Regions from separate parts of the Homo sapiens genome. Here region 1 is linked to region 2. Evidence: fine-mapped expression QTL. A gene starts in region 2. The other region holds a variant in brackets. All regions are shown on one strand. Distances are between the middles of the regions.

Region 1 (5,373 bases), 110 kb after region 2:
AAGTTCCCCACCACCACTTTTTGTCCAGTGGTCCCTTTCCAAACAATTGCTTGTTGGAATACCGTGTCGAGGCAAGCTGAACCCCAAGGAAAGCAAAGACATTCACAGAGACGTTACCTCATTCTGTTTAGATGATGTAAGATTAGCCTTGGATCTCGCAATCACCTTTCATCAGCCATGTAGGTGTGGCATCCCAAAATAAAAATTGTCATTATCACTTACTAACAAATGCCATTCAAAATACAGTGGTTCTTTAAAGCTGTTGCAGATGGTTTATCTCTTGAGAAGGTTGAGTAAATGACAAATGTTTCATAAACAATTACATGAGCACTCCTTTCCTCTCTTTTGCGATTAAAATAGCAGTACAGCACATTTGTATTTATACTCGATTATATATAATCAAAGAGTTAAGCTCTTTAATTATGCAGCTAGCATTGATTTATCAAAAAGAGTTATGTGTGTTTCTTCTCATGTGCCGGTAAGAGGAATGGGGTTGGGGAGGGAGTAGTGAGAGAAATAAAACCCTGGGAAAAAGAAAACGCGGAATCCGGTTGCTCTTCTCACAGTAGCCAGAAGGAAGGGCAGAGCTGATCTCTGGCAAGTCCTTCCGCTGCTGGGACCATTCAGTTCTTGGGGCTTGTGCTGGCGGTAGGAAGGGGTGTGTATTTTAAGAAATCTCTGTTTGATTTCTCAACTTCCCTCTCTCCCTCCCTCAGGAGTTAGAAGCCGCTCTTCACAGAGATGACGTGGAGTTTATCAGTGACCTGATTGCCTGCCTGCTTCAGGGCTGCTATCAACGAAGAGATATCACGTGAGTAATTCTGATCTTTCTAAGCATTTCTTGCGCCAAGAACTAATTAACCAACCATAGTGATGTTTCCTGTCTCCTGTGACAAACCAGAACCGATCATTAGGCATCACGGGACACTGTAGATGGAGGACGTACACGTAAATTTCCAGGCTGTGTTTGGCTTATTCTGCAGTTGGGTTTTTATTCCATCATAATCTTTGAGTTTATTTCATTCTCACAAATCCATATCACTTACTCTTGGATACCCCAGCTAACATATTTTAGTGTAGAATTTCTTCTTATATTTGCCATTTTCTGATTTTGCAGTATTGGTAAAGTATTGCCTAAGAAATCAAAACTAGTTTTTATTACCTTTCTGTCATTTGAGTATCTTCTGTTGTTTACATAGCCAGCAGCACTGATGTAATAAAAAAAAAAGAGAGATGTGTAGAGACATTGAGCAAAATGTGATGTATGGAGACAAATAAAGGAGAGTCCTGATAGGACCTCTTGTTTTGATCTTTACTTAATACACGTTTCTTTGCTATGTGTCTATATAGGACAGAACTACAGGGCAAACTCACAAAAAGGTGAGATGCAATGGGTTTCCTGGTCTCTTGCCTTCTGATGCCATGTAGGGGGTTTGAGTTGTTATGGTTTGCCTTTCTCAGATAGGTAAAATGGTATCAAATTTTTTTTTTTTTTTTTTTTTGAGACGGAGTCTCACTCTGTCGCCCAGGCTGGAGTGCAGTGGCGCAATCCCGGCTCACTGCAAGCTTCACCTCCCAGGTTCACGCCATTCTCCTGCCTCAGCCTCTCGAGTAGCTGGGACTACAGGCACTCGCCACCACGCCCGGCTAATTTTTTGTATTTTTAGTGGAAATGGGGTTTCACCGTGTTAGCCAGGATGGTCTCGATCTCCCGACCTCGTGATCTGCCCGCCTCGACCTCACAAAGTGCTGGGATTACAGGCGTGAGCCACCGCGCCTGGCCAAGTATCAGATATTTTTGTTCTAACGAATTCAGTCTGTTAGGGCTGGGAAACGATGCTTGTTGTTAATGTGCAATAAAGTTGTAGACAAGGTAAGAAGGAGATGTAAATGCTGTTTTTCTCAGGGTGGAAGTCTGCATTCTCTAGGGGAGAGTTATTGCTCGTGCACTAAGTATAATGACTTTTCCCCCTAGAATACCCAGGTTGTATTTGTAAATAAAAATAAACATAAAATATACCTTAGAATATTTTCTTCCGTTCTCTATTTAGGATGTAGACTTGGGAGTTTGTAATTTTTAAGCACTGTTGTATTCGTACCTTGTGTTTAATTCCACATTTTCATAACCTGGAATTTTTTTTCATTATAGCAATCAGTTTTCTTATAACCACATTTTCTAAATGTCATTGTCAAATAATCCAGTCTGGTAGCTGACAAGTTATGTCTAGCTTTTAGCTGTTATAAACATATATAATGCATAGCTTTGTACAAAATTCACCAGGTTCCTGGAAGTACATCACTCAGTCAAAAGATATGCCCATTTAAGATCTTCATTTTAAGCAAGGCTTAAAGGCTTTTGCCAGGTTTCCCGTCACAGAGGTGGTTGTATTTTAGCCTTAAATGATCAGTGCGTGAGAGTGTCTGCTTGGATGATCCTTGTGAGCCCTCTGTACACAGACTAGTAGGTACTGGCAGCACAAACACTCACCAGATCTCTTAGAGTTCACAGTTGTGACAGGGAGGTCCA[T/C]GAATCATTACAGTAATGATTATATAGTTGCCAGTTATGTAATTACAACAGTAAGTGCTTAGAAATAAAAATACAACATATTAACAGAGCATACAACCTGGGGTAAGAAAGTGACTTGTGAACTGAGCCTTCACATATGGGCTGTTTTCTCTCATAGGATATTCCTCCGTGGCTGAGTTCATCCTCTAATTTGTCCTTCTGTTTAAAATTGATCTTAACTAATTCTGCTTGTTTGTTCTTCCAGATAGTGGTTACAAAGTTATGTCCTGTTCTTTAAGAACTCCCCTTATCTAATCATTCTAACTAGAATCAAATAAACCTATGAAGAAATGTGGGCAAAATTGACATCCCTACAATGTGGTCTTTCTTTTTTTTTTTTTTTTTTTTGGGACAGGGTCTTGCTGTTTCACCCAGGCTGGAGTGCAGTGGCAGGATCCTGTCTCACTGTAGCCTCAACCTGGGCTCTAGCAGTCTTCCCACCTCAGCCTCCTGAGTAGCTCAGGACAGGACTGTGCCACCATCCCCAGCTGATTTTTAACAATTTTTTGTAGAGACAAGGTCTGTGTTCCCTGGCTGGTCTTGAACTCCTGGTCTCAAGCGATCCTGCTGCCTTGGCCTCTCAAAGTGCTGGGATTACAGGTGTGAGCCACTGTGCCTTGCCCCTACAAGTATTTATTAAATAATAGAATACCGTATCCCTGTATCTGTCTTTAATTTGCAGAGTTTATTGGCCTTGATTTTTTTCTTGAGTTAGTATTCTTTTGACTCTCTAGGATTATTATCTATCTCTTTTTTCAGTGTTAATACTGATGTCTGCTTCAAGCTGTATTATCCATTGTTAAGTAACAAATTACCCTAAAACTTAGCAACTTAAAACCACAAAAAGTGTAATCTTACAGTTTCTGTGGGTCAGGAACCTGGACAAACCACTACTGGTGTGTTTAGCTCGAGTTAGCTTACAGGTCTGTGATCAAGGTACCAGTGACAGCAGTCATCTTGAAACTTACTACTCATGTATAATACACACACACACACACACACACACACACACACACACACACAGAGAAAAGTGCTCATTTCCTAATTCTAAAGCTCAATGAATTTTCACAAACTGAACACACCTGTGTAACAGAGAACCTGGACAAGAAAGAACACTACAATCTACTTTACTTTTTTCCCTGAAGGGAATTGCCTAAAATGATGGTTCCACATGCGGTTACTGTGAATGTACACTCGTTCTTGTCTGAAGTTCTACTTTGATCTCATTCTAAAGAAAGAGAAATTTGGATAAGTAAATGTTTACCTGTTATGCCTCCAAGACTAAACTGTTCTATGCAGCTTAAAAAGTTACTTAATTTCGGCCGGGCGCAGTGGCTCATGCCTATAATCTCAGCACTTTGGGAGGCCGAGACGGGCAGATCACTTGAGGTCGGGAGTTCAAGAGCAGTCTGGCCAATGTGATGAAACCCGGTCTCTACTAAAAATACAAAAATTAGCCAGGCGTGGTGGTGCACGCCTGTAGTCCCAGCTACTCAGGAGGCTGAGATGGGAGAATTGCTTCAACCCGGGAGGCGGAGGTTGCAGTGAGCCAAGATCGCACCATTGCACTCCAGCGTGGGCGAAAGAGTGAGACTCCATCTCTTTTTTTTTTAAAAAAAAAAAAGGCCGGGCACGGTGCCTCACGCCTGTAATCCCAGCACTTTGGGAGGTGGAGGCGGGCAGATCACGAGGTCAGGAAATCAAGACCATCCTGGCTAACACGGTGAAACCCCGTCTCTACTAAAAATACAAAAAATTAGCCGGGCGTGGTGGTGGGCGCCTGTAGTCCCAGCTACTTGGGAGGCTGAGGCATGAGAATGGCGTGAACCCGGGAGGTGGAGGTTGCAGTGAGCCAAGATCGTGTCATTGCACTCCAGCCTGGGTGACAGAGCGAGACTCTGTCTCAAAAAAAAAAAAAAAAAAAAAGTAACTTCATTTAGTTGTGCATAATTCGCCTCATCTATAAAATGGAATTAGTGACAATATTCAGTAAAGTTATTATGAGGATTAAACGAAATGATGAGTGAGAGTAATCATCATGAAACACTATGCCTAGTTCCTCCAAAGGCTCAGCAGAAAACAGATTTTGACTCAACCAAGTGTCTGTATCCTTTTCCGTTGTGGTTTGCATGTTTTAGAACAGGGGCCAGCAAATGTTTTTTGTAAAGGGCCAGATAGTCAATACAGGCATGCATCACATACTGTCATTTTGTTCAGTGGCAGACCTCATGTACGACAGTGGTCACACGAGGTTGTGATAGACACAAAAATTTTTATCCCCTAGAGATATTATTGCCCTTGTAACATGCTTGCACATGCATTACTCATGTGGTTATGGTGATGCTGGTGTAAACAAACCTAGTGCGCTACCAGTCATATAAAGACCTAGCACTTACAGGCCAGGCGTGGTGGCTCACGCCTGTAATCCTAGCACTTTGGGAGGCCGAGGCGGGCGGATCACCAGGTCAGGAGATCAAGACCATCCTGGCTAACACAGTGAAACCCCATCTCTACTAAAGATACAAAAAAGTAGCCGGGCGTGGTGGCGGCACCTGTAGTCCCAGCTACTCGGGAGACTGAGGCAGGAGAATGGCATGAACCTGGGAGGCGGAGCTTGCAGGAAGCCGAGATCACGCCACTGCTCTCCAGCCTGGGTGACAGATCGAGACTCTGTCTCCAAAAAAAAAAAAAAAAAAAAAAAAAAGGGCGTGGCATGGTGACTCACGCCTGCAATCCCAGCACTTTGGGAGGCTGAGGCAGGTGGATCACAAGGTCAGAAGATCGAGACCATCCTGGCTAACATGGTG
Region 2 (5,373 bases):
CTGGAGTGCAATGGCGAGATCTCGGCTCATTGCAATCTCTGCCTCCCGAGTTCAGGCGATTCTCCTGCCTCAGTCTCCCGAGTAGCTGGGACTACGGGCGCCTGCCACCACACCCATCTAATTTTATGTATTTTTAGTAGAGACGAGGTTTCACAATGTTGGCCAGGCTGGTCTCGAACTCCTGACCTAAGGTGAACCACCCGCCTCGGCCTCCCAAAGTGCTGGGATTACAGGCGTAAGCCACCGCGCCCGGCCAACTCACACAGAGGAAAAAGTGTGCAAAGTCAAACTGTGAGGAAATAAAAGACGGAGAAGCAAGTCCAGAAAGCACCTCGTTCAGGTTACGTGACAATTCCGGGGTGGCCTGTGTCCCTCTCCCATCTCCCTTGCTAATGCAATACTCACGGGGTAGCTGTGCTTCACCAACACACACAAACGTAGGCTTGGCTTTTTGGGAGCAGTCACATGTGAGCTCATTTTTGCCAAACATTAAATAAAAAGCATGGTAGAATTTGAGGATGCACTTTAAATCATCAAATAGTTCCAGGGAATGAAAGAGCAGAACTTTGGGTTGTTTTTCTGTGCCAGGAGAGAGTGGTGGGGGGCGGAGGAGACCCTTGTTAGAAGATGATGTATTTTGAGATTACTAGATTCACAGAAGATGCACGTGAATATACTCTAACCATTTAAAATTATGTTTCTGAATGCTGCCTTAAAAAATACAACAAGTTATTATCATAATAAAGTGAGGGAGAGTGGAGGGGTAATTATCCAGACAGCCCATTCCAAAATCTATCATATAAATTATCTCCAGATTGTACACTACTTAAAGGTAGAAGAGGATCTTTGAGTTTAACCCTTGTACACTTTGTGATTGTGCCTGTCACTCAATAAATAGTTGATTAATTTGGGGGACGCACCAGGAGCAGTGTTTCCTATCTGAAAGGTGGACCACCGAACTCAGAGGCGGCCCTCTGAGACCAGCAGGATGCAAGTGCGACGACCAATACAAATATCTGAGCATTCAATGGAGTTTTTCCAAACTTCTAGCCTGTTTCTGGGGTGATTTTTTTTCTTAGGATTTAGCAGTACTCCACCGCGCTACAGCAGTTAGCATTTCTAAAGCACACACTCCAACACCCTTCGGCCGTAGCACATTCAATCCCTCCGCCGGGGCGTGGGGGTCTCCTCCCCTCCGAGCACAGTCCCCGGCTTCCCGATCTCCTCTGCCCCATCCCCCCGCCTTCCAAGCACATTGTGCTCACTCTTCCAGGCAGCTCTTTCAGCGGCCGGGCAGTAGCAGGGTTCCGAGCCCGTCTTCTCCGGGGCGGTCACACGTGTCCATTCCCTGGGGTTGGGGATCGCTCTTCCCGCTTGGCTGCTGATTGGTGCCTCCCCCTACCCCACCCTTCCCGCCGCTCTCCAGCCTCCATCCTACTTCGTTCCAGCTCAATCAGCCCCACCGCCTTCTTCCCTCGGAGAAAAAAGCCACTTCAGAGCTCCTTGGGCGCCGTTCTCGGCTGGAATAAAAGCGTTAAGAAACAGGTGGAAAGCACTTCACTTCTCTAGGCTTCATATTTCTAGGGTGGACAGCCCGCTCCTGCTCCGGCTCTGCCCTCGGCATCAATAATAACTGAACTCCCACACGTGCACGTTTCTGTCTCTAGCCCGACCGAAAGGACCACCCCGCGGGCCCTTTAAAAGGACGCGACCACTCAGGCCAAGTGGGGGTGGGAGAGCTCCTGGCCGTCCTCCCTTGGGAAAGTGCTTCAACTCCCCAGTCCCAAAGTCCTGGAGGGCGGAGGGCGCCTCGTGAGAGTTCTCGGGGGTGCGGCCCGCGCCCCCTGGGTCCTGCGGATCTGGGCCCGGGGGCGCGCGCCCCGCCCCTCCCCCTCCCTGGCGGTGCAGCTGTCCGGGCGGGGGTGGGGCGGGGGCGGGGGTTGTTGTTGTGGCGCGGGCAGCCCCGCCCCCTCCTCGTGGGCGGCCCCTCCCCCAGGCCCCGCGTCCGGCCCCTCCGCCCCTAGCCCCATCTGTTTCTCCGGCGGGGACTCGATTATATTGTAGGGGACTGGGGGCGGCCGCCGCCGCAGCCGCGGGATGGGGCGAGCGCGCGGACCCCGCGGGCAGCCGCAGCCGCAGCCGCCTCAGTAGTTCGGGCCCCCGCGCCGCCGCCCCCCGCCCGGCGCCCGCCCTCGGCTCCTGCACTCGCCGAGCGGCGGCAGCAGCGGGAGGAGCGCCCCGCCGCCCCCGCCGAGGACCGCGCGGAGGCTGCGGCGCTGCCGCGGCGGGAGTCCCAGGTCGGCGGGCAGAGCGCGGGCAGCGAGGGGCCGCCGCCTGTGCCGCAGCGGGGAGATGTGCCCAGAGGAGGGCGGCGCGGCCGGGCTGGGCGAGCTCCGCTCCTGGTGGGAGGTCCCGGCCATCGCGCACTTCTGCTCGCTCTTTCGCACCGCGTTCCGCCTGCCCGACTTCGAGATCGAGGTGAGTGGCCGCGCGGGCGGGAGGCGGCGCGCTGCGCCCCCTGCTCCCCCTGCCCCGCGCGGGGTGTCCCGGGCCGTCGCGCAGAGGGGCCGGGGCCCGAGGGACTTCGGCCGGGAGTCGGGGGCCAGGAGGAGGGCGCAAAAGGGCAGGAGGGCGGGCGGGGGCCGCCGGGCTGTGCCCGGGTGCCGAGGGGCGTCGGGCCGGGGACGCCGGATCCTGGGGTGGAGGAGCAGGCACCGCGAGGGCGGGGCGGGCCCGTGCTTTTGTGGGAGAGGGAGCGGGAGCGGGACCCGGCGACCCTCCCGGGACTTCTCCGGTGGGCTGGGGCTGGGTGTGGGCGCGAGGGCTGCGCGCGCTCGCCGCCCGGTGCCATTGAGGCGCGAGCCAGCTGCTCCGGCGGGGCCGGGCGCGGGGGGGGGGCCCGCGCGGGATTAACTCGGACCGGGGCGGGAGTCGGCCGCGGCCGGCGGGGAGGGCTAGCCCCGCTCTGGCGGGCGGGCGCGTGGCAGGGGCTCCCGGAGGCCCCAAGCTCCCGGGAGGCGCTCCGGCCAACTTCGGGCCGGTGGGGACCGGGCCTGGGCGCGGGGCTCTGGAGGTGTGGAAGGAAAGTTTGGGACTCCGTTATTCTTCCACAGCGTCCTTCCTCCCGTAATATCCAGCCTCTTTATCGCGGGGCTCGGGAGCCCTTGGAGTTGATCTCGCCACCATTATCCCCCCGGGCGAGCGCGGAGGACGGGCTGGCCATTCTGGCCAGGCCGGAGGTGTTTTCCAGCCCGGGGCTTTGTGATAACTGGGCCGAAACCCGAGGGTCCTGGAGCGCGGCGGGTGGCGGGAGCTTGCGGAGCGCGGCGCACTCGGCGGCCAGGCATCGGCCAGCCCAGCGGCAGCCCCCTTTCTCCTATTTTTATTTTTATTTTTGGAAGGAGCTGAGAATTAGTCGATTGGTTGGCAGGTTGAATTGCCTTCTCTTCTATGGCAATATGTGTCGTGACTTTTCACCTTTTGCCTTTGGACAAAGGTGAATGGCAACTGCGTTGGTCAGTTTTTGTTTTCTGTTCTGCGGATGGGTTCGCCGACGCAGTAATCAAAATTAGAGCCACTCTTTTGGAAGAGCAAATCGTTGTTGTTGCCTCCCCAGCCCCACGGATCTTACTTTGTGCCATTTTCGGGTTGATTTTAACTCGTTTATTTCAGAGCTCTTTGCCTCACCTTTATTTTTAGATTTAGTCGTGTTTGCTGAAATATCAGTTGCTTCTTCTGTGAATGAAGTGTGGGAACTTGCTCTCGTCGCAGTTAATGAAATCAGGAAAATAAAAAGATCAAAAGGGTTGGGGATGGGAGAATGAAGAGGAATGTAGACAGATAGTCTAGGGCCACTCACTGGCTTTTGGCGATTCTTAGTTCCTTAAGCTGATTAAAACAATGTGAGGAAATGTGGGCTTCTCCACTTTTTAGGAAGAGGTAATAACGGGCATTTTACGTGGCGCCACAGCGTTTGTTTTCAAAGTTTGAACGTGAATGTAGCAAGCATAATTTTATTAATGAAAATATTCTTTAGACAACTGTTAATATTGACGAAAGAAGAGAAACAGAGACACGGAAGCTAAAGAGTTGGGAATCCTAAAGGTCAAAGGATGTTTCTCAGTTACTCTGATGTCCTGTGTTTTCTTTCAGTTGGTACAAAATCGTGAGTAGTTTAATTATATCCTGCAGTCAAAATGGTGGCTGTGGTGGGAGGTGCCGCCTGTGACAGGGCCATCTTGGGTGCTGGTAAACTTGCACCTAGTCCCTTTTCTTCCTTGCGAGATAAAGTTGAGGTGGTGCTGGGATTATGAGTTCAGAGTTTAAAGACCCATCCTAAAAATATTGTTGGAAAAACTTTATGTCTCAAAATCCATGTATTCCCATTTTGTTGATGAAAAGCTAGAGGTAACTCATTTTGCCTTAAGTACTCGCAGCATATTTAGAGTAACCTGTAAATAACTTGTCTTCTGTTATAAGCAATAAACTTGTGGTTTCTGAGAATTAGCTGGTTTAATTCCTAAAGGAAATGTAAACTGATTAAAGAGGTCAAATTTATATGTATAACATGAAAAATCACTGTAGTTTACATGGTGAATAATCAAGGCTATTTGATATGACTGTCCTCTCTTTTGACTCCAGTGTTTCTTGGAAATGACACTTTTTTGGGGCTAAAATACATGCTGTTTGAAATACATGCAACAGAAATGAATATTTGGCTTCAAACATGCAGGTTTTAAGAACTATCCACACTCGTTTTTATTTGGAGATGTTCAGTCAGTGGATAACAAAGTGACTTTTCTCACCTGCAGTTTTTGTCTAATCCATCTCAGGTATGTTTTGATATGGCTAATGGAAATTTTAACTTACGCTTTTTAGTAGTTATCAAAAATTAGAATTTTATTGGGAATGATTATATGTGAGATTTAAAAATTAAGATTTAAGAATGTATTTTCTCGACTCGGTGGCTCACCCCTGTAATCCCAGCACTTTGGGAGGCCGAGGTGGGTCGATCACCTGAAGTCAGGAGTTCGAGACGAGACTGGCTAACATGATGAAACCCCGTTTCTACTAAAAATATAAAAAGTTAGCCAGGCATGGTGGCGCGCTCCTGTAATCCCAGTTACATCCGTAGGCTGAGGCAGGATGATCGCTTGAACCCGGTAGGCGGAGGTGGCAGCGAGCCGAGATCGTGCCATTGCACTGCAGCCTGGGCGACAGGGCGAGACTCTGTCTCAAAATAAATATATTAATTAATTAAAAGATAAAAAATTCAAATGCCGAGCCGTACCTGTTAGGCCATGTGGAAGGGCCCTACAGTCTTAATTTTCTGCAACTTTAAAAGGTAAAAATGATAAATAATAGCAAGTAGTA

Direction of the effects. Alleles are on the strand shown, and positions count from the first base shown. SD is a standard deviation of normalised expression in the study named.
For the expression in esophagus muscle of the gene that starts at base 2,029 in region 2, allele T in region 1 goes with a higher level than allele C (moderate effect, 0.42 SD a copy in GTEx).

The links.
Region 1: its variant is fine-mapped to the expression of CECR2 in esophagus muscle (GTEx, PIP above 0.99).

Annotation. Positions count from the first base shown.
Region 1 is chr22:17,476,872-17,482,244 of GRCh38, forward strand. It overlaps CECR2 (CECR2 histone acetyl-lysine reader), which reads left to right. Exons shown (of 19, transcript NM_001290047.2): 2 at 717-811. Among named protein-coding and RNA genes, the nearest start is that of SLC25A18, 84 kb to the right of the region's middle. The variant T/C (reference allele first, on the strand shown) is at 2,528.
Region 2 is chr22:17,367,432-17,372,804 of GRCh38, forward strand. It overlaps CECR2 (CECR2 histone acetyl-lysine reader), which reads left to right and starts at 2,029. Exons shown (of 19, transcript NM_001290047.2): 1 at 2,029-2,478. The coding sequence starts at 2,353. RefSeq lists silencers at 2,287-2,356, 2,367-2,466.